Linked DNA regions of Homo sapiens: regions 1 and 2 are each linked to region 3. The links come from fine-mapping of genetic effects on gene expression. A gene starts in region 3. Each other region holds a variant in brackets. All regions are shown on one strand. Distances are from middle to middle.

What was found. PIP is the estimated chance that this variant, and not a neighbour inherited with it, causes the effect. A credible set is the group of variants that fine-mapping cannot tell apart.
Region 1: its variant is the best candidate, but not a certain one, in a credible set for the expression of CGNL1 in lung (TOPMed, PIP 0.62).
Region 2: its variant is the best candidate, but not a certain one, in a credible set for the expression of CGNL1 in tibial nerve (GTEx, PIP 0.53).

What each region holds. Positions count from the first base shown.
Region 1 is chr15:57,534,997-57,542,187 of GRCh38, reverse strand. All of the region lies in intron 14 of CGNL1 (cingulin like 1), which reads right to left. Among named protein-coding and RNA genes, the nearest start is that of GCOM1, 53 kb to the left of the region's middle. RefSeq lists enhancers at 933-1,252, 1,393-1,732. The variant A/G (reference allele first, on the strand shown) is at 3,646.
Region 2 is chr15:57,485,570-57,492,760 of GRCh38, reverse strand. The region is part of intron 8 of CGNL1 (cingulin like 1); the gene reads right to left. It also overlaps the pseudogene RIDAP3. Among named protein-coding and RNA genes, the nearest start is that of GCOM1, 100 kb to the left of the region's middle. RefSeq lists an enhancer at 6,110-7,191. The variant C/A (reference allele first, on the strand shown) is at 3,724.
Region 3 is chr15:57,373,557-57,380,747 of GRCh38, reverse strand. It overlaps CGNL1 (cingulin like 1), which reads right to left and starts at 4,243. Exons shown (of 19, transcript NM_032866.5): 1 at 4,181-4,243.

The sequences.
Region 1 (7,191 bases), 160 kb before region 3:
CCCAGTGAGTAAAAGATAAGCTCACCCCTTCCTCACTGTCCCCCATGGAGAGCAAGAACTGGGGTCCCAGGAATGGCCAGAGGAGACATCCCACATTGGGCCAGGCTTGCATTTGCTCCCTGGCTCCCCTTGTCCTGACCGAGGTGTGTCACACAGCATGATGTCACTGGCCCAGAGTGGGCAACGGGGAAGGGGGCTAAATGATGCTGGTGGGACAGGCAGGGTTGGGACACAAAGGCCTCCAACACCACAGGGGGAAGCTGGGCCTCTGCCCCTAGGTGAGGGGGTACCAGGTGGTCCAAAGAAAATGCTCACATTTTAAAATTCCTAACTGGCAGGCATCTAAATCATGGAGGTTCAGAATGTTCAGCAGAGGAAACTGAGGCCTACGGCAGCGGTTATGCAAGTAACCTCAGGAGCAGGGCTAGAGACAGGCTGAGCCCCTGCACTGCCCATTACTTCATGGCTCTGTCTCTGGACCATCTAAGTGAAAAGGATTCCAATAGGCCTAGAGTTCAAATGCAGCTGTAGCATAAACATCCGGGCACAGAAGGGCAGTCCAGCCTCCTTAGGGCATCTTGCATAGAGAAGGGAAAAATGCCAGCAGTGGCCAGGACCAGCAGGCAGGGCACGTCCACCCAACTCAGGCCCGCTCCCACTCTGCTGGGCCCCAGGGCCCTCACGAATCACACACTGCAAAGAGGGCACCAGAACAATTGCTGTTACTGTTACCCCAGCACAAAGTGCAAGGGGAATGAATGCAGGCTCACGGCCCTGCTCCCAAGGTGGTTTCTGAACCAGCCACTGACACCTCACACATGGAGGTCAGCAGAACAGCTGGGCCACGGGACTGAGGACAGACGTGCCTCCCAGGGGCAGCCGTTCTGTTCATGTGCCCAGGGCAGGGCCCAGCACTTCACTGAGGACATGGTTAAATTTCCACTGCAATGGGAAACAATTACAGAGAAAAACAGCAGTGGCCTAACTTGTCCTGCTGGCTCTGTCTGTCCCTCACCTGTGACCTTGTTGATCTAACTTCTGGGATACAGGCTCCTAAGCAAGGAACTTGATTGAATGAGACACGCTGTAAGGGCCCCCGAGCTGGCCAATGATACAATAAAAGCACAACCTGGTGCCTCCTCTACCCTTCAGGGTACTGTGTGGCACCCTTCTGAGGAAGCCAGAGGCGCCTGCCTCCATCCTTAGGCAGAGCAGCCACCCCGTCTCTCAACCATTAGGAGTTTCCCCTGGGGAAAACCCACATTGTCATAATGAGAGCAAGCATGTGTCTGCGAGTGCACACGCTTGTGTGCTGGGCAAGGGTAGTCTCAGAACGATAGGATGGGTTTGTTCGCTGTTCAAACGACATGATGTGTCTTATGCAGGACATTGTGACAAAGAGACCCAGAAAGTGCCCGCTCTCCATATAGCCTAGTGGGGGACAAATGAACGAGCCCTGCATAAGAGGTCAGTGTCACTATGACAGGAAAGGACAGTGTGCTGGGGTGGGTGCACTGGGTGACTGCCCAGATTCAGAGGGCCAGCAAAAGCTTCCAGGACACAGACAGTAAGCTGAAACCTAAATGAGATCAGGGATAGACAGGGTAGAAAAAAGGGTAATATGGTTTGCCTGAGTCCCCACCCAAATCTCATCTTAAATTGTAGTTCCCACAATCCCCAGTGTCATGGGAGGGACCCAGTGGGAGGTAACTGAATCACGGGGGCGGGTCTTTCCCATGCTGTTCTTGTGACAGTGAATAATTCTCATGAGATCTGATGGCTTTATAAAGGGAAATTCCCCTGCACATGGTCTCTTTTGCCTGCCGCCATGTAAGACATGACTGTGCTTCTCATTCACCTTCAGCCATGATCATAAGGCCTCCCCAGCTATGCTGAACTGTGAGTCAACTAAACATTTATAAATTGCCCAGTCTCAGGTATGTCTTTATTAGCAGCATGAGAACAGGCTAATACAATGGGCAGGGTAGGGAATGCAGCTTTCAAAACCGGAAGGGGGCAGACCACCAGTAACACAGAGTAGGAGGTAAGAAAGAGAAGGGCAGTGTTGGAAGGAATTAGCCATATGAGGGAGGTGAGGGGGCAGGTTAAGCAATCGATGGATTGGGTGGAGAGGAAGACAGAGAGTAGTCACACAGGACCCAAAATCATACTGTGACAGCTGCTCACAGATTTATTGTGCTTAGGAAAGCAAGTCCTGCGGATTTGAATAGTATTATCTCATTTACTCCTGGCCACCACCAATGAGGTAGGCAGTGTTAACATCCCCATCTGTGCTTAGATTCCTCCTGGTGATGCATGTGGGGCCAACTGGGCGATGCCGGTGGAAGCCACAGAACAGGTGAGCCCACCAAGGAGCAATATATAAAGAATAAGGAGGATCTGCAGCTGTGCCCTGGGGATCCCCTCCAACCCCCCATGTCAGGGGAGGCAGGGAGAATCCAGGATCTATCCCAAAAGGCAAGAAGGGCAAGGACTGCCGGTAAAGCACACAGGCTGGACAAGAACCAAGTTTGCTTCTGGAAGGGTCTGCAGAGAGGTGAGCCTGACTGCAAAGCTCAGAGGAGGCGCTGGAGGTGAAGAGGTGGGAATAGACACCACACTTCTCCTCTGGAATCCAGCAGCGACTAAGACAGCAGCTATGACCCAGGGCTGGAGGGGGCACGAGGGTGTGCAAGAAATGCCCACACCTATTGTTAGGTGTCAATGAGAAGCCACAGAGGAGAGAAAAGTCACAACCAGTGGACATCGAGAAGGGAGTGTCACAGGAGAGCAGCCACCCAGCAAGTGGAGGGACAGGATCCAGCCCTGTCTTGGGGTCAGAATGTGGGTGGGGAGAGGAAGAGGATCCTCCAGGGCTTGGTGGAAGGCAGGAGCCTGTAGCTCAAAGGGAAGGTAGAGGCAAGAAAGGGACGGAAGGTAGATTATTTTCCGAAAAGTGAAGGGATAAAGAAAAACTGAAGGCTTGTAGAGAGACAAAGAAATCTAGTTGCTGTGGAGTGTGCGCCTGAAAAATACCAGAAGACAATAAACGGCCAGCAGAGCAGAGGCAGGCATCGCTCTGCAGCTGTGCTCCCGGCCAGGAGACCCAGAGGGGAAACACCAAGAATCAAGAGCCCCTCAAGCTGGGCGCTGGGCGGGAACTCTCCGAGGCAGATGTTATCACCCTGAGTTTCCAGGTGGGAGGTCCAGAAACAGCTTCTGAGTCAGAGTTAGGTGGAAGCAGCTTTGGGATTCCAACCTAGGTTTTCTGACAAAAACTCATACACTCTTTTTTCCCCTCCCCGTTGTGTCTTCGCAAACCTGTAGGACCTAGGACTCTCAATAAAGGAAGAAGACCCACAAGGAGAGTTTAGACCGGGACTGTGGAGCCCAGAAGGAGAACGTGTCTATGGTGGAGTGAGGCAGAGTGCAGAGAGCGCATGGAGGGATTCCAGGATGGCCAAGTGGTCACGCAGCCCTGGGCCCAGCCTGGGGGTTCAGGACAAATCCTGCCACATAAAGCAGCAGCCACTGGCCACAGTCTTGCACCCTCAGTGCCAATGTCTGAAAAATCTGGATCCCACCAGGAAACAGACTTCCCTGTGCAGAGCAGCACTTAGCATGGCAGCATCCCCAAGGGTCCCC[A/G]CAGGTTCAAGACCTCCCTGGAGGGCCCCTGGAGAGCCCCAGGATAATGGTGACTCTCCAAAGGGGGGCAAAAAAAGGAATTATTTATCCCCCACCATAGCCCCTTAAAAGATGGCTATTAAAATGGAAATGTAAAATAAATCAGAGTGAAGAACAGGAAGGAATAAATGTGTAGCCATAAAACTTAACAGTTACTGTGACCTGAGCAGGCAGTCCATTTCCTTCAGTCTTTGCAAACCCAGGCTTTTGGCAAACATAATAGGCTTCCTTTTGTTCTTCAAAGGACAGCCTGACATGAAATTCTAAAGTAAATCCACCATGTGGAGCCTTATACAAGAAATACTATGTGGTATTATGGACAATGCCCCAAGAAGGATGGGTTTCAACATAAACCCAGAAGTATCCTATGTGTCCCTGCTGTTAGCTGTCCTCAGTGCAGTGATCCCAGGACTAGGCCCCTTGACTTGGGAATATCGTAAATCAAATTCTTACCCTGAGCCCACACTGGCACCTGCCCTGGGGCGGGGGGTGGCGGGGAGGAGGGAAAAACCTATGGCTTGGCTGAGCCAGCCTCCTGGACCAGAGAAGAGTAAACTCAAGGCTGGGAAAGTATTTCTTTATATAAGCTTAGTGCTTTCTATGTTGTTTACCCTTCAACTACATTAAATAGCACAAACAAAAACTTTCCAGTCAAATTAAAAACAGAACAGGAGCTGAAGGCAAAAGTATATCACAGCTGGATTGAAAGAATGCTAAGCCCTGAGCATTTTGATCAGAAATCACAGTATCAGATTCCAGTGGGTTTTATGTCAGAGATACCCATGACCTGAGCCAGCTCTCAGAATTGTAAGTAGCTGCCTTTTGGGTTAATGGAAAGCCAGAGCTATTTGTGATGGCCAATAACAATACTGAACCCCATCACCTGTGTTTATCATTGGGCTGTAAAGAGGTCGGCAAGCCCACACTCCTGGCTGGCATTAAAAATAATAACCACAAAAAAGGAAAATTGTTATTAATCAACTGTACACACTGGGTTTTTGAGCAGCTGATACAATAAAAGGCAGTTCTGAGATTAGGAGCATTTCAATTAAAAAAAAAAAGAAGAAGAAAACCCCCCTCTGATCTTTCACTCACAACTGCAAAGACGACGGTCCCATTTAGCAGGGGTGGCACCCCTGATGCTGACTGAGGAGCAGTTCCCGAAAGTGACTGTAGGAGCCCACAACTCTATCACTGGCATTTAATCCTGCAGTTGCCGAGGCAACAAGGCAGCCTTGCTCAGTCCCTGGAGAGACCATGAAGCCACCCAAAGCTCGAGTTGGTATTTTTCCTGCCTGCCAGCTGCCTGGGCTTGATGAGTCATCTCTCCACTGGGCTGGGTCATCATGGTCTCCATAGCCAAGAGAACGCCTTCCCATGTAGGCCCAGCTCTGCTGTGAAGCATTTGCAGCAGTGCTTATCGAGCCAGCACAACAGCCTATTGGCCTTTAATTTAAAGCATATGAAGCCGGACCTCTCTTTGGCTATTTGAATCCTGCACTCATAAAGAATCAGGAGAGGATCAGCTGAACTTAACTCCTCACCCATTTTAAGAAACACCACTTTTAACTTGGGAATGGAGACCCAAATGCATTTGAAGGAGTGGTCTTTAAGACCATGACATAGTCTCATTCAGGGACGATGGGAATAGGCAAGAGGCTTTGGAGTCAAACTGTGACTCCACCTCCTACAAACTGTGTGACCCTATGTAGTCACTTCACCTTGAAAGCCCTGAAAACAACAAGAAAGTGAGTGAGGCACCCAGCACAGTGCCTAGCACTTAGGGAATCATTGGTAAGGATGGCAATTGTCATAAATGGAAACATGGTTTTTGGAGGACGGAAAGGAAAAAGGATTACTCTGGATTTAAACAGACCAAACGCCAGCAACTTCAACTTCTTTCAACTTATAAGCCAATCAGAAACCTTTCTGTATATGATGGGACTATACTTGGGTGAGAAAACAGATACTCCTTACTTCTATTTCATAAAGAAGATATCATTTTATCAACTCCAAATCCATCCCTTCTCCTTCATAGCAGTCAGACTTGAAAACAAAGTCCAAACATCCAAGAGGTTTGAAAAACGTTTCTCTCTCAATTAGGATTTCCTGAATCCATCACTCTGAATAATATTGTCCTGAGCATGTAAAGGAAGCCCTTAGAAAGGCTGTGATATGGTTTGGCTGTGTCCTCACCCAAATCTCATCTTGAATTATAGCTCCCATAATCCCCACGTGTTGTGGGAGGGACCCAGTGGGAGGTAACTGAATCACGGGGGTAGGTTTTTCCTGTGCTGTTCTCATAATAGTGAATAAGTCTCATGAGATCTAATGGTTTTATAAAGGGCAGTTCCCCTACACACACTCTTTTGCCTGCCGCCATGTAAGACATGCCTTTGCTCCTCCTTTGCCTTCTGCCATGATTGTGAGGCCTCCCCAGCCATGCTGAACTGTGAGTCCATTAAACCTCTTTCCTCTATAAATTATCCAGTCTCAGGTATGTCCTTATAGCAGTGTGAGAACGAACTAATACAGGCTGGGAACTTATAAACAACATGGCCAGCATTTAGTGAGTGCCAAATGTATGCATAAGAGAAAGAAAGAATGGAGGCATGGAAAGGGTCAAATACACCATCTTACACAGCCTTCCTTGTCCTCTGCCCTGGTAACAGCACAGTTGAGGCCTCCTCTCAGTCGCCCCTTCTCCAGTCCTCACCCCCACCCCTGGCGCATGAGTCTTCTAGAACACAGTGTATGCTTCACTATTGTGCTCAATCGCCTTCGATGGCTGCCCACTGCCTTCACAATAGAGCCATTCAACACCCTCAGTCTGCCTCTTCAAACTTATCTCCTTTCATTTCCTATGGAAACTGGAAATCTGATTGACCCACACTCATCCATTCATCCATTCATTGCTCCTCAAAATGCTGTATAGGTCCCTACCTCCCAGTCTTTGTTCACACCATTCCTTCTATCTAGAATCCCATTCCCAATCCCCTTGGTTTATTCACGTCTTACCCTTTCTTTAGAGCTGACCCCAGGTCCCCACCCTCTTTCCAGTAATTCTTCCACACTCACTCTTGCAACAATGGTCTTTCCCTCATTAGCTGCTTGAATCTTTTACTTGGCATTTAGTATCCACTGTTTTCTATTGTTAGTTATCAATTTTTTAGGTCTGACCCATCTCCTCAAACAAACTGTAGCAACTCAAGGTCAGGGACCATTTCTGGTCCTCTTGGAGCTTTACTGCAATGCCATGCACACAGCAGGTATTCATCATATTTTGCAGGCACGGGTAGATAGAGCACTGCCTTGGAAATTGAGACCTAAGCCCAGCTCTGCAGTCAATTGCCTGCATGACTGTGGTCAAATCACCAGGTGACTCTGGGCCTCAAATCTCTCATCCATTACAGTGAAGTGGGGAGAGTTGGACTCTGAGGTCCTTGCCAGATCTAACAGTCTATGAGAGGGGTTGGCCATTCACTAATATTGCTGGAAAACCTTTTT
Region 2 (7,191 bases), 110 kb before region 3:
CAGCATTATATGTCAAGAGAAGCTTTAATTCCCCTGAGGAAATGTTTTGGGTTTTTTTTTTCCTTATGGACAACAAAAGTCATGAAGTTGATCGTGTTTCCTTTTTCACTTTGCCAGAAGTCTCAGGACTACATCTCTAATTCACCTTCAAGATTATTGGACTACACAGCTGGGTTCTATTTGTCCTCACTATCCCCAGAATTGATTCTATTTACATTTATATTTCCTATGATCTTTTAGAAATATCTTTTTTATTTTACTCTATGTGCTTTTGTAAGTATTCTCAGATTCAACCTATGAAAAATGTCAATGTATAAACAAAGTTGCAAATCTATTGCTCACAAAGTTTCCTTGCAAATGAGAACCTAGCACTCCTTAATCTGTACACTGTTATTAGGTAGGATTGGAGTGTAATCCTGAAATGTGTGTGATGCCTCTGAGGAAATGAATCAAGTTAGGCCCACCTCATCTTTTGAATGTCAATTTCTAGGATCAATGAACTGATCAGATCCTCTAACCTCCCTTAAGATGTGCCTCCTATTGCCAGGTCTCCAGGTTCTGCCTTCACCAGAGTGAGAAACCTAAGGCTTTAGTTGATAAATCAAGTGTATGCCTCCAGATAAGTCATCATACCTGAGGATTTCAAAGACTAAAAGCCTTAAATGAAGTAATAAAGTCTCTGACTGGAAATATCTGGAAGTGAGCTTTCCTTAGTTTTTACCTAACGTCCTTTTCCAGCTCTTGATCCCATTCAGGATACCACATTACATTCAGTCATCATTGCTCCTCAGGCTCCTCTTGGCTGTGACAGCTCCTCAGACTTTCCCTGGTTTTGATGACCGTAACAGTTTCAGGAGTTACATATACTGGGCCAGGTATGTTTGCAGGAAGGAGGAGGAGGAGGGGAGTTGGTCCCAGTACTATTTGCATCTTTCTTGGGATGAACATATTTTTAAAGCACTTTTCTGACACATTCTCATTGCAAAACTTATGCTGTTCTCTAAAGTAGAGAGAGTAGGCATTTCTTTCTCTTCCTAAATTATTTGGAACTCTTCTATAACGGAGATTCATCTGTTCTTCCTACATCATGGGCATCATTATCCCGTTACTATTCTGCCTCTTAGCTACAATGTGAGCATCTTCGAGTACAGGGACTCAAAGCAAAAAGTGGTACATGTAGTGGATTCAGGAAACATATGTTCTAGGGCTCATTCTTTCATTGTATCAGCTAACAAACATGTGAGTGCGTCTTGTGTGCCAGAAGCTGTGCATAAAGATGAATGAAGAGCTCACAGCCTTGCAGGGCAGACAAGAGAGGAAGTTAACTGCAGTGCCAGTGGCAGAACAGAGATGCAACTGGTGCCACGGAGAAAGCAGTGGCACTGTGGGAAGGAGGCTGCTTGAGGATGACTTCACAGAAGAGGCACCAAACTGGGTGTTAGAATATTCCCCCAGGTAGGTTTTTCTAAACGAAAAATTATCTATAGAAAAGCTTTAGATTATAGAAAAACTGCTAAAATAATACAAAATTCCCTTTCATCCCACACTCGGCTTCCCCTGTTACTGCATCTTACACGAACATGGTACATGTGTCATAATGAATGAACTAATCCTGATCTATTATTATTAACCAAAGTCCATACTTTATTCAGCTTTCCTTAGTTTTTACCTAACATCCTTTTCTGACTCTTGATCCCACTCAGGATACTCCATCACATTCGGTCATCATAGCTCCTCAGGCTCCTCTTGGCTGTGACGGCTCCTCAGACTCCCTGGTTTTGATGACTGTAACAGTTTGAGGAGTACTGCGCAAGGTATATTTGCAGGATGTTCCTCAATTGGAATTTGTCTGATGTTTGGGGTAGAAAGACCATGAAGGTAAAGTGTCATTTTCAGCATATCATATCAAGGGTAGATACTATCAATGTGATTGATGCTGAAATTGATCACGTGGCTGACGTAATGTTTATCAGGTTTCTCTACTGACTCCCCAGTCCACCAGAAAAAGTGACTCTTTTCTCCCCCACTTCATCCTGTACACTCTGGAAGGAATTCACTATGTGCAGCCCAACTTCAAGAATGGGGTGTGAGCCCCTACCTACTTGAAGGCAATATATCTAAATAAATTATTTGGAACTCTTCCAGAAGGTAGAGTCCTCTATTATTCCCCATTTATGTATTCATTTACTTGTTACATCAGTGTGAACACCATGAGCATTTATTTTATTTTGGGGTCATAATCCAATACTACCTTATTTTGTGACTTTGGCCACCGGCAGCTTCTGTATTTCGTTCCTGTGTCCCTGTGCCATACCTCATCAATGTGAGTGCACACGCACGCGTGCGTGCGTGTGTGTGTGTGTTTGGAGCACTTCCTTACTTTCTGGCACTGCTAGGTAGGTTTTTATAATGTGGTTTCTAAACATCAAAGCCTGCCCACGTTAACATCATCTTCAAATGCATCAACGTCATAGAACTTTAATGCCAGAGAGAGCCAGAGGTCATAAATCCAGTATCCCCATTTAATATAAGATAAAGCAAGGTTGGAGCAGTTGCCTGAGGTTACACAGCTTTTTAATAGCAGAGTAACACAGCCACTATGAGAATTCCTGATTTTTATTGCTTATTTTCATTTTTTTTCACTATTTCAAGTAACTACTGTTGTCCATGTGTAAAAGTCCAGTCTACAGTAGAGAAATTGTGTCTGTCACGAAATCTCTCCAGGTGACCAAGTTACCATCAGTAAGGCTGCACACAAAGCAGGGTTGAAAATATGCTTCCCCAACCTCCAGACATCCAGAGAAAACGCTACTGTTTTTATTTTTCTAGTAACAGCTTAATTTTCCTCACAATCTCTCTAATTTCTCTCACAACCTCTCATCTACCTACAATGGCAGTAATCCTAACTTGAACTTAATAGTTAGTAGTATCTCAGTCACTTCTGGTCTAAACAGTCTCTTTTGAGCAGATGCTTTAATATCCAAGCTTCAGCACCAAAACTAATGTCTGGGAAACCACTTGAATGGTAGGGAGCCTGGAAAATAAAACTTAAGAGGAACAGAATAGTGCTAAGACAATTCAATGAGGCAAGAATCGTCTCTTCAACCAACAGTGATGGGACAACTAATATCTACATGCAAAAGAATAAAATAGACTCCTACCTCATACTATGTTCAAAATTTAATTCAAAATGAGTCATAGACTTAAATGTAAGAGCTAAAACTATTAAATTCTTAGAAAAAGAGTAAAGCTTAAATCTGCATGTCTATTTTCTATCCATTAGAAAAATATTATCTATATAAAGTTTTGGTCCATTTTCTATTTCTTTACCCCTACCATTCAAATTTAAATATTTTAATTTTAAACTAGTAAAAGCAGAATTACCAGAATCACATACCTGACATGATAACTAAATATATGACATCACTCAATTTATTGGAATTAGGTATGCTCTTGATTATTTCTCAGGAACAACAACTCATCTTTCCTACATGTTATTTCCCTGTTATTTGAGTAACTATGTAATGAGTATCTCTTTCCTACATTCAGTGATATGGGTGTGCATAAGTGTAATTTGTAACATCAGTAACTGGATTCACCATCTAACCTTCAATTCATGTTTAATTCTATTATATAGTATTTCCATAACTTTGGATACTTTAGTCAAACTTACACTTTTCATCAATTATAAAAATCAAGATGTTAATTAAGATGTTATATCAA[C/A]TGTGACAATGAAGACGTTAAAAATTCCGGACTAGACAGCACTGGGCCCACTTATAGACAGGCTGTTGTGAGAGGTCCTTGAACAGCTACTGCTTCAATTTCAACCTGGCCTCCTTTGGGTAAAGCAGCAACATGGTAAGCAGCTCTAGTAGAAAAACCACTCTTAAAATACTGTTTGTAGATTACATTGACAGCCCGGAAGTCATTTGTGTCAGCTAGCCAAACAGTTGTTTTTGCCACATTAGTGAAGTCACAGCCTGCAGCTTTCAAAATATCACCCATGTTCTTAAGGGCCTGTTTAGCTTCTTCTGTTACCCACTCTTGGCACAAGCTGTGCACTCGAAAGGTTCATGCCTAGCTCTCCTGAAATGTAAAGGATCCCGTCAACTAATGCAGCTTGACTGAAGGGACCAGTGTACCCTTGGGCTTTCTCAGTGTTGATCACCTTTATGATCAAGGATGACATGGCTAAGTCTTCTCTCTTGCACCCCCTTCAGTAGAAGCAGTCCCTACACCAGTTCTGCTCACTTCTCACTCGACTGCAGAAGAAGAGAAGGTCTTCATGACCTTGGATGAGGAAATGGTTTCTTAGATACAACACAAGTACCAACAGAAAAAAGAGTAAACTGGACATCATGAAAATTAAAAATCTTTGCGCTTCAAAGGATAGCATTTAAAAAGTGAAAAGACAATCTGAAGAAGGGGAGAAAATTTTGCAAATTAAATATGTACTAAGAGACTGATATCCAGAATATATAAAGAACCATTACAACTCAGTAATAAAAAGACAACCCAATTTTAAAATAGGCAGAGAATCTGAACAGATAGCTCTCCAAAGAAGACATACAAACGGCCAATAAGCACATGAAAAGATACTTGATATCATTAGTTATCAGAGAAATGCAAATCAAAGCCACGATGAAATACCATTTCACACCCACGAAGATGGCTATCATAAAAAAGGCAGATAATAACAAGTGTGGGAGAGGATGTGGAGAAATGAAGACCCTCAGGCATTACTAGGGGAATGAGAAATGGTTCTGTCACTTTGGAAAACATTTTGGGAATTCCTCAGTTATTTTATGACCCAGCAACTCTACTCCCAGGTATACACGCCAAAGAAATGAAAACGTCCGTCCATGCAAAACCTTGTACCCTCTGTATACTCGAAAACTATATCCAGAGACTGTAGAATATTGGTGACTCTCTTTGAGAGAGGTAATCTAAAGGTTTTTTTCTCCCCACTTAGCCTATCTGGCAGCATTTGAACTTTTACAGCAACTCTGTTTCTCAGATCTGTACATTAAGAGAAGTAAAAAACCAGTAAAGGCAAAGTTCTCAATAACAGCACAATCTACAAAGCTAGCAACTCATCACAATTCTAATCACTTGGTTCTGTATAAATATCTGCCTCAACATGGATCTTTTTAAAATATAAAATAACCTGAACAAAAGGAAAATCTGAGTATATAGATTCATTTGGTAACAACCAATGACACTTATATTATTACCAATATCAGAGAATGCCAACCCTTAAGAATTCCTCAAAATGCTTTTGAGAAAAATATGTATCCTAACCCAGTATGTCAGTACTGGCCAAATGGTCCCACTAAGTATCACTTTTGCCCAGAAAAACAGCAATAAACCAATCCTCCTCTTTTACCTTTTTTTGACTCTGTATACCTGAAAATAAGTAATGTTGGCTGAAGTCAAAATAAGCTTTAAAAAAAAAGTTGAATAAGCTCAAGAAAAGAAAGAAAAAGTTGTTCTTTGCAACTCATTTACCATCTTGGAAAAACCCATCTCCCAAGGAGAAGTACTCTTGTTCTTCATAATATGAATTTGCAAATATTCATCTCTTCCCTCCATCAAAATGCACACATACAATAAACTGTCTACTCCTAGTCTTTCTAGTTGCTGGGCAATTAGAGTTTAGTGTGGTTGCACTGGTAATAAAGGTATTTTAAGTTTGTACACTTAGAAGCTTCATTTGCATCAGGAAATAGTTGAACTGGGCTGGGAAAACTAGCAGCAAAGAAGTAGATAATCTACATAATACCTCAAGCATGGCTGGTAGGGCCAGGTCTACAATTATTGTGACATCTGTAAGAAGTTCTAAAACACCACTCCCAATGGAAATGTAAAACAAGGACAGAATGCAAACAGCCTCCCCCTCAGGAGCATGCAACTATTGCAAGCAGCTGTTGGGCCCAACCAAAATCAGTAGCTTCAGCCTAGCCTTTCTCTTGTGCCAGATACCCCTCTTTGGGTGTCCCACAGATGCCTCAAACTCAACACGGTCAGATTCAACATGCACAAAATGGAAGTCCTCATCCCACTTACCACTCCAAGACATGGACCTCCTCTGTTCCTTCTCAATGCCTCCAATATTCACCAGTCACCTAACGTAAAAGCTGAAGGTCACCCTTGACAAGCTGTTCTCACTCATTCTCTCCAATCAATCCACAGCTGTGAGGAGGGACTTCAGTTAAAAGGCTAAAATTTTGGGAATAAGAGAGAGGAAGACTGGACGGACTCATGTGAGTGACAGAATGGACCAGATTTGGTGATAAGAACAGTTTATAACTCTTGCAGAAGCGCCCAGTATCTGTCTGGCTTTCCAACTGTTTCTCTCTTTCTCGCTGATTTATTTGACCCCCTCTTCCTTTCCCCCCACGACCTCTTCCCTGACTCTTTGCAGTGATATCATTCCCATTTCCACAAAGAGAAACAAAGTCATGTGGCCCTAAAGTTTGGTTAACATTTTCTGACAGATGACCTAACACAGAAGAAGCAGGGAAGGTTGACTGGGACCAAATTCCTTGACCACATCTATTAGCTGATCCCTGAAAGAAGTGAAGTTTCAGGCCTCAGCATGGTGAGCCTGCCCCTGCCCTGGAGCACCAGTAAGGCAGCTGATTCCACAGGTCACCACCTCAGCCTGCCTGAGTCAGCCCGGGCCCTGCTCCTGACTCACCCTCACTTCTGATTCCAGACCCCTGACTCAGCTACTCACACATTCCTGACTTCCTGGCCCTTGACTGGTTTGCTGACTTACCTTGGCAGACCTTTGAATTTCTCTAGGGGCCAATGCTAGACTATTAGGAGAGGTTAGTGAGACTGGGCACCAGAAGAAAGAAATGGCACGTGGCTAAACTCCTTTTAAATCAGCATCTGGAGAGCTGTGCTGCTGCCATCAAAGAATGGCATACAGGACATTCTATGTACGTCTATCTGAAAAGATCCTCCAAATGTATTGTGAGAGAGGAAAAAGGTGGTGTCAAAAGTATGATCCAAAATATATTTTCTTCTACTCTATACTCTTATGCATTGTTCAATTTAATTTAAAGCAAGCTTTTTCTATCATTTGTTTTTACTAAAGCAACTACAAAATAAAAAATTCCACACAATTACAATTTGAATGGGAAAAAGCCTCTGTGGCAAATACTATGACACTTCACATATCCT
Region 3 (7,191 bases):
TAGACTCCAGAAGCAAAAGACACCTGCCAGAATCTGTTCTCTTCCTCCACCTCCCACCTCCCCTTTGCATGATGGATACCTGCACCCTTCTCGCTCCTGGAGTCGGACATTTCCAAAATCAGTCATTTGGGGTACGGGCCTAATAGAATAAGCTTTAATGTAAACCCAAGTAAAGCATGTCTTATGCCTCCTGTGCCAATGAATTGAGGAGGCATCTACCCAGGCGAGGCTAGCCAGGTGCCCCACAGTACCCCACGGGCCACTGTGTTCCTCTTGATTAGAAAAGTTCCTAACTTATTGCAACCCAGGGTTTACATCCCCACCTGACTCAGGCCCCTTAAGGCAGGAACCTTATCCTGTTTACCAACAACTCTGGGTAATACATAGCTTTTGCTAGTAACAGGGGCTACTAACAGCTGGGCACAGTGGCTCATGCCTGTAATCGGAGCACTTTGGGAGGCCGAGGCAGGTGGATCACCTGAGGTCAGGAGTTCGAGACCAGCCTGGCCAACATGGTGAAACCCCATCTCTACTAAAAATACAAAAATAAGCGGGGTATGGTGGCGCATGCCTGTAATTCCAGCTACTCAGGAGGCTGAGGCAGGGAGGATTGCTTTAACCCGGGAGGCGGAGGTTGCAGTGAGCTGAGATCACATCACTGCACTCCAGCCTGGGTGACAGAGCAGAGTCTCAAATAACAAAAACAAAAAGACACCTTAGTGTGAATTTAAGATGAAGCACTATCTCCCCCAAGGATATTGGCTTGAGGGATGCAGGAGGGTGCATGAGGAGAGAAGTACAGGGGGCTGCAATCGGGACACGGGGGACACCAGGCTGAAAACACTAAGCCTTCCCTCCTCGGTAAAGGTCAGTCAACCCTGGTGCTATTTCCATCCCCCACCCCATTCCCTTTTTTTTTCTTTTTTCCTTTTCCATTTTCAGGATTTTCATGTCATAACTGGTTTCTTGATAACAGCAATGTCACATGCCTGAAAAAAGTAAGCACTTGGTCATTCAGAGAAAATTACCCAATTTTTGGTTTCCCCTTGAACTTTGTTTTCCTGCTCTGATGCCAACCTCTCAGCCATGCCACCGCCCTTTAGTGCCGAGATCAGAAGATGAAAAGAAAGGAAAAGCATAAAATCAGTTGGATATTTTTAAAAGGCCAATGGCATCTCTTAGATAAATGGGTTTCACGGGGAAAGAGAGTTAGGAGGCCATTAAATTTCTTTAACTCTCCCTCACCCATCAGCACAAGCAAATTAAACAAAGAAAAAAAGGAAGCCACCAGGGCAATAAATTCTTAACACAAACCCAAGGCCTTTTCTAGTTGCTGTATCCCCTTTCCCTAAATGAAAAAGTATCTCACTAACCCTTTCTTCATATTTTTCTTCACTTACTTTCTTCTAATCACTTTAGGATATTAGAGCTGCTACTCCAAAGTGAGAAATTGCAATAAATGTGCTTAGGCCCACATTTACATAAACTTTTCTTTTTGGGGGGGTAGAGTGTATTATTATATTCACAGTGTAACTATTGCTGTTCAGGGGTGACTTTTCAGACACCATGAATTCAACAGCATCCTCGAATAAGCATTTTTCTTTTCCCAATTGAGACAAGATTTGGAAGTTAACAAACCATTTAATAATATGGCTTCATTTTGTTGGCATGGTCTCACTCACTCACACACACACACACAAAAAAAACAGTAGGAAAACACTTTCCATATAGTCTTGCTCCCCAAAGGGTGATGATTCGGGTCAGGGGACACCCTGTAAGACAATGCGCTGCATGTAACCTCCATTTCAAGCCAAAGCCAAGACAATGAAGACGGCTCCCACAGGGTGCACACCTCCAGCAAGTGAATACAGTAGTAGCAGCAGAGCATGGTCGTGGAAGTTGGGGAAAAGCGAGAAAACCAAGTGGGCAAAATTATGTCATTTTTGTATTTTTCAAAATGAATGTTCTTTGGACTTACATTAGCAGCTAGAAATGAATGTAAATGTTCTTTCACTTCAGCAAGGCATTCTTGGAAGGATGTCATCCCACTGTTAATAAAAATACAGGCGGGGCACGGTGGCTCATGCCTGTAATCCCAGCACTTTGAGAGGCCGAGGTGGGCAGATCACCTGAGGTCAGGAGTTTGAGAACAGCCTGGACAACATGGCGAAACCCTGTCTCTACTAAAAATACAAAAAAGTAGCCGAGCATGGTAGCGGGTGCCTGTAATCCCAGCTACTTGGGAGGCTGAGGCAGGAGAATCATTTGAACCAGGGAGGCCGAGGCTGCCGTAAGCTGAGATTGCACCATTGCACTCCAGCCTGGGCGACAAGAGCAAAACTCTGTCTCAAAAAAAAAAAAAAAAAAAAAAAAAAAAAAAAAAACACATAGAGGGCCACCCCCTAAGAAAAACTTAAAACCACTGATTTGTGGTCAGGTAGCAACATCAGGGTGGAAATTTTAATGCAAACATCATATTTGGGGTACAAAAGTAAATTAACCAAGATCCCCGGAGACTATCACATTACTAAAAAGGGCAGTGAAAACACATTTTCTTGATAAAATATATGACCTAATTTAGCCAATATAAGCATGGTTACATTTTCCTTAGTCCTACTTCTCTATCATTTTTAAGACCATGTGACAGGTGTCTCAGGTGTCATCTCAGATGTGCCATGTTATACACTGTGTTCTGTCTGCAGGGCTTCATCATACTTCCAGAATAAGTTTAATCTACAAAAATGGACTTATGTTAACACAAATATCAACCACAAAACCTTAAGGATGTTGTTAGCTTTGGCTTTTTGAAGGAAAATTCTCCACATTTATGCAACTCCATTATCTACGTGGGGGAGTCTCCGGAGGGTCTCCAAAAGCTGACCAAACCCTAAAGTATTTTTTCTCCTTTTAATCTGAAATCATTCCCGAATATGACAAGTCAAATTATCACTTGGTTTTCCCTGAATAGGACAACCCTGTATTATAACCTTGACCCTGACAAGGACTGCTCGGTTCTAATGCCTACACTCCCACCTCCTTGGCAGAAAGTGCCCTGGCAGTATTGACTGTAAACAGAGAGGTAGAAACAAAGGGATCTTCAGTAAAGGCACCATCTACTGTCTAAAGTTGGAAAGCACCAATCAACAGGTTCTTCAGGTGGAGAGGTGGATTAGGGAAGAGCTATGAGGACCTGAGATGAGTTCTAGATCAGGACTGATCTTGAGCCGTCCGAAGAGTGGCTGGTGGGAGCAACTCTCAAAGCAGAGGTTTTCAAACTTGCCTGCACATTAGAATCACCTGCGGCGTCTTAAAAATTCCATTGTCCAGGCTGCAACCCAGGCAAGCCGAATCCAGATCTCTGGGAGTGGGACACAGGCACCAGTATTTTTTAAAACTCTCCAGATGTGGGGCCAAGTTTGAGAACCAATGCCCGCAAAAGCATTCCCAGCGAGCTTTGAGCAACGTTTTGAGCGGCATAAGCAGAGTCGGGAGGGCAGCGGCCTTAGGGTGAAGAACACACAAAGCAAATATACAAAGTTTCAAAAATCCTGTGTAACTAACTCCAACATGACAGCCAAGTACCTGTCTAGAGGCCAAACAGTGATGCAACTTGGAAAAGTCCCGGGGAGAGCTAGAATGTGTGCTCCGAGTGAGGCGGGGGCTCTCTCGGGGATGACCTCCCTGGGCGGCGCAGTGGTCTGGAGGATCGGGGAGAGAAAGGTCACACGCCCCTTTCTTTCCAGGGGATGGTCCGGCCGAGCACGCCGAGGACTTGTGTACGACAGGATAGGTCAGAAACTGCTTCGTGTGAGTCTCTCCCAGCTGTCACTAGAGCCGGAGGGTCCAGGCAGGGGTGCGAAGGCAGAAAGTCCCTCTTCACTAAAGGGAGGTTCTGCAGGGCCTCCTCCCTCCCACCCCGCCCCGAAGCGGGTTCCCCAGGGATCGCCCGCATCTGTTCTGCGCCTGCCCTCGGCGGGGCGCGGCGCGGGAGTCCGGGTCGCATCTTCGAGCCCCAGGACACGCGCGGCGCGGGTCACCGAGAGTGGACGCGCGGACTGAGCACAGTGCACCTGGCTGAGCCCGAACCCCTGGGGGTCCCGCCGCCCTGGGCGGCCCCTAGCACCCCGAAACCCGGCTGCCGGCGCACACCCCGCCCCGCTCCAGCCCGGAGCTCACTCACCGCCGCCGCCGCCTCCTCCCGCGTCCAGCTCCCGCCGCAGCCAGCAGAGCCCGGCCGGAGTGCAAGGGCCGCGGCGCCGCCGGGAGGCCGAGCGAGCCCGCGCCCCGCCCCGCAGTCGCCGCCCGCCCTCCTGGGAGGAGGGGCAGGGGCTGGCCGGGGGCCTGGACCCGCCGGGGCTGCCGGCGGGCCCAACCCTCCCTTCAATCCGCCCGCGGCCCGTCGGGACGAACCTACCCAGGAACCCCCGCACCACCCGCCCTCGGCTCCGCTGGGCCCGGGGCTGCGCTTAGACCTCACCCCTTCCCGGAGCCGTTCGTCCTTCCACCTCCCCTCCGCCGTCACCGGGCATTTTTCTTCTCCCAGCCTCGGCCTCTCCAAATTCCTGGCCTGCAGGAAGCCCTCCCTATTTCGCGCTCTCGACTGCGCCGAGCTCAGTTTACCCCTTTCCCTTCCTTTCCCTGCTTAGCCTTTTTCCCCCTCACTGTCAGAAACTTAAGGGATAGCGCTCTTCTGCCACCGCAAACCCACACCTATTTATTGAGCACCTACTGTGTCTAGACACTGGTGGGGAGGTTATCCCACTTGCGCGGTAACAAGAAATGTCTGTCTCTGTTGGAGAAACAGTAAAGTGAGGCGCCTCGTAAGGTCACACAGCTGGCGGTAGTAGGGCTGGGATTCGAATACAGTTTTTAGGTCCTTGTTTAGACCCACCCCACGATAAACTGCGGCACGCCTCTCGCTAGCTGTGAGAACTTGGGCAAAATGTTATCAGTTCTAAACCCCAGTTCACTCATCCGTAAAATGAAAAGCTGGATACTTCACCAGCTATGAGGATTCCCTGAGAAAACAACAACCTGTACTTTTTTTTTTTTTTTTTTTTTTTGGAGATGGAGTCTTGCTGTTTTGCCCAGGCTGGAGTGCAGTAGCGCGATCTCGGCTCATTGCCTCTGCCTCCCGGGTTCAAGCGATTCTCGTGCCTCAGCCTCCCGAGTAGCTGGGACTACAGGTGGCCACCACTACGCGCGGCTAATTTTTGTGTTTTTAGTAGAGACGGGGTTTCACCACGTTGGTCAGGCTGGTCTCGAACTCCTGACCTTAAGTAATCTACCCGCCTCGGCCTCCCAAAGTGCTGGGATTACAGATGTGAGCCACTGCGCCCTGCCCAACCTGTACTTAATACATGTTTGCTGACATATTGAATGAAATAGACCCTTGAAAACTTAACAATTCAAAACAATATAAAAGGACTTGAAAAAGTAATAGGTTGGTGCAAAAGTAATTGCAGTTTTGCTATTACTTTCAATGGGAAAAGCCACAGTTACTTTTGCTCCGACCTAATAATAGTGATTCATTGCCAGGAAAGAAAGAAAAAAAAAAAAAGATGCTACTTATCCCAAGTGGGCAGCATGGTCAAGGGAGTCTTTTTGGAGGAAGCGGTATTGCACTATTCCAGAGTTAGCAGGTCTAGGTTGGGGAAGACAGCCAAGGTGATGGGGTGTGTGAACAGTGCCCAGAGGGTGGACCAGCTTTCCTGAGCAGAGGCTGCCTGGGGCAGGACACACATGCTAGAAAATGGGATGAGGCATACTAGAAAGGTGGATGGGGTCAGAGGGTGGAAAAGGCATCAAATGCCAAAGTGAGGGGGCTCAAGGCAACCAAACAGTACTTGGACACCTCAAAATGACTAGAATGGAACCTGCATGCAATAGAGGGCACCTAAATGGCCCTGGGAACCAGATGGGGGAGACCCATGGCCTAGGAACCAGCAGAGTCATGGGGTAGATGGGGAGTTGCAGCAGGGAGGGACAGGAAAGAATTTTCCAACTGGGTGCAGTGGCTTATGCCTGTAATCCCAACACTTTGGGAGGCCAAGGCAGTGGATCACCTGAGCACAGGAATTCAAGACCAGCCTGGGCAACATGGCGAAAACTGTCTCTACCAAAAAAAAAAGAAAAAGAAAAAGAAAAAAAGCGCATACACACACACACACACACACACACACACACACACACACACACACACACACACAAATTAGCCAGGCATGGTAGCATGTGCCTGTAGTTCCAGCTACTCAGGAGGCTGAGGTGGGAGGATCAACTGATCCTGGGAGGTTGAGGTTGCAGTGAGCTGTGACTGCCCCAGTGGACTCCAGCCTGGGCAACAGAATGAAATTGTCTCAAAAAAAGAAAGAAAAGAAAAGAAAGAGAGAAAGGAGAGAGGGAGGGAGGGAGGGAGAGAAGGAAGGAAGGGAGGGAGGGAAGGAAGGAAGGAAGGAACTAATGAAGGAAGGAAGGAGAGAGAGAAGGGGAAGGGAAGGAAAAGCAGAAGGTAAGGAAAAGGGGAAGGGAAGAAAAAGGGGAAGGGAAGGAAAAAGGGAAGGGAAGGGAAGGAAACGGGGAAGGGAGGGAAAAGGAAGGGAAGGAAAAAGGGAAGGGAAGAAAAAGAGAAAGGAGGGAGGGAGGGAAGGCAGGAGAAGGGGAAGGGAAGGAGAAGGGGAAGGGAAGCACAGGGAAGGAAAAGGGGAAGGGAAGGGAAAAGGGAAGGGAAGGGAAGGGAAAAGGGAAGGGAAGGGCTCTTGTTTGGAAGACCAGATGTCTTGGTGACCAGATGTGTGCAATGAGGGAGTGGAACTGGCAAAGGCAAAGCTGAGGCTTCCAGGCTGGGTGCCTTGGAGCATCAGAAATAGGAACAATATGGAAAGAGGCTGCTTTTCAGGAGAGCTCCTGAAGGTTCCATGGAGCATGAAGTAATGGTGGAACTTTTCAGTGGAAATGCCCCAGCAGGCAGCTGGGAAGTGGAGGAGTGTCTCTGGGCAGCATCCATGTGGAGGGTGAGGGGAGAGTGAGGACCAGGAGCCAGGAAAGGAGAGTGCAGTGCCTTCACTGAGGGTGGAGGAAGCAGAGGGCATCACCCAAGGGAGAAAGAGGAGGGTAACTGAGAGCTGTTGGGAAGAACCCAGGAGTCTTTGACGGAAGCCCAAGGGTGAGGGACTCCTGAAGGAGAGGGCAGTG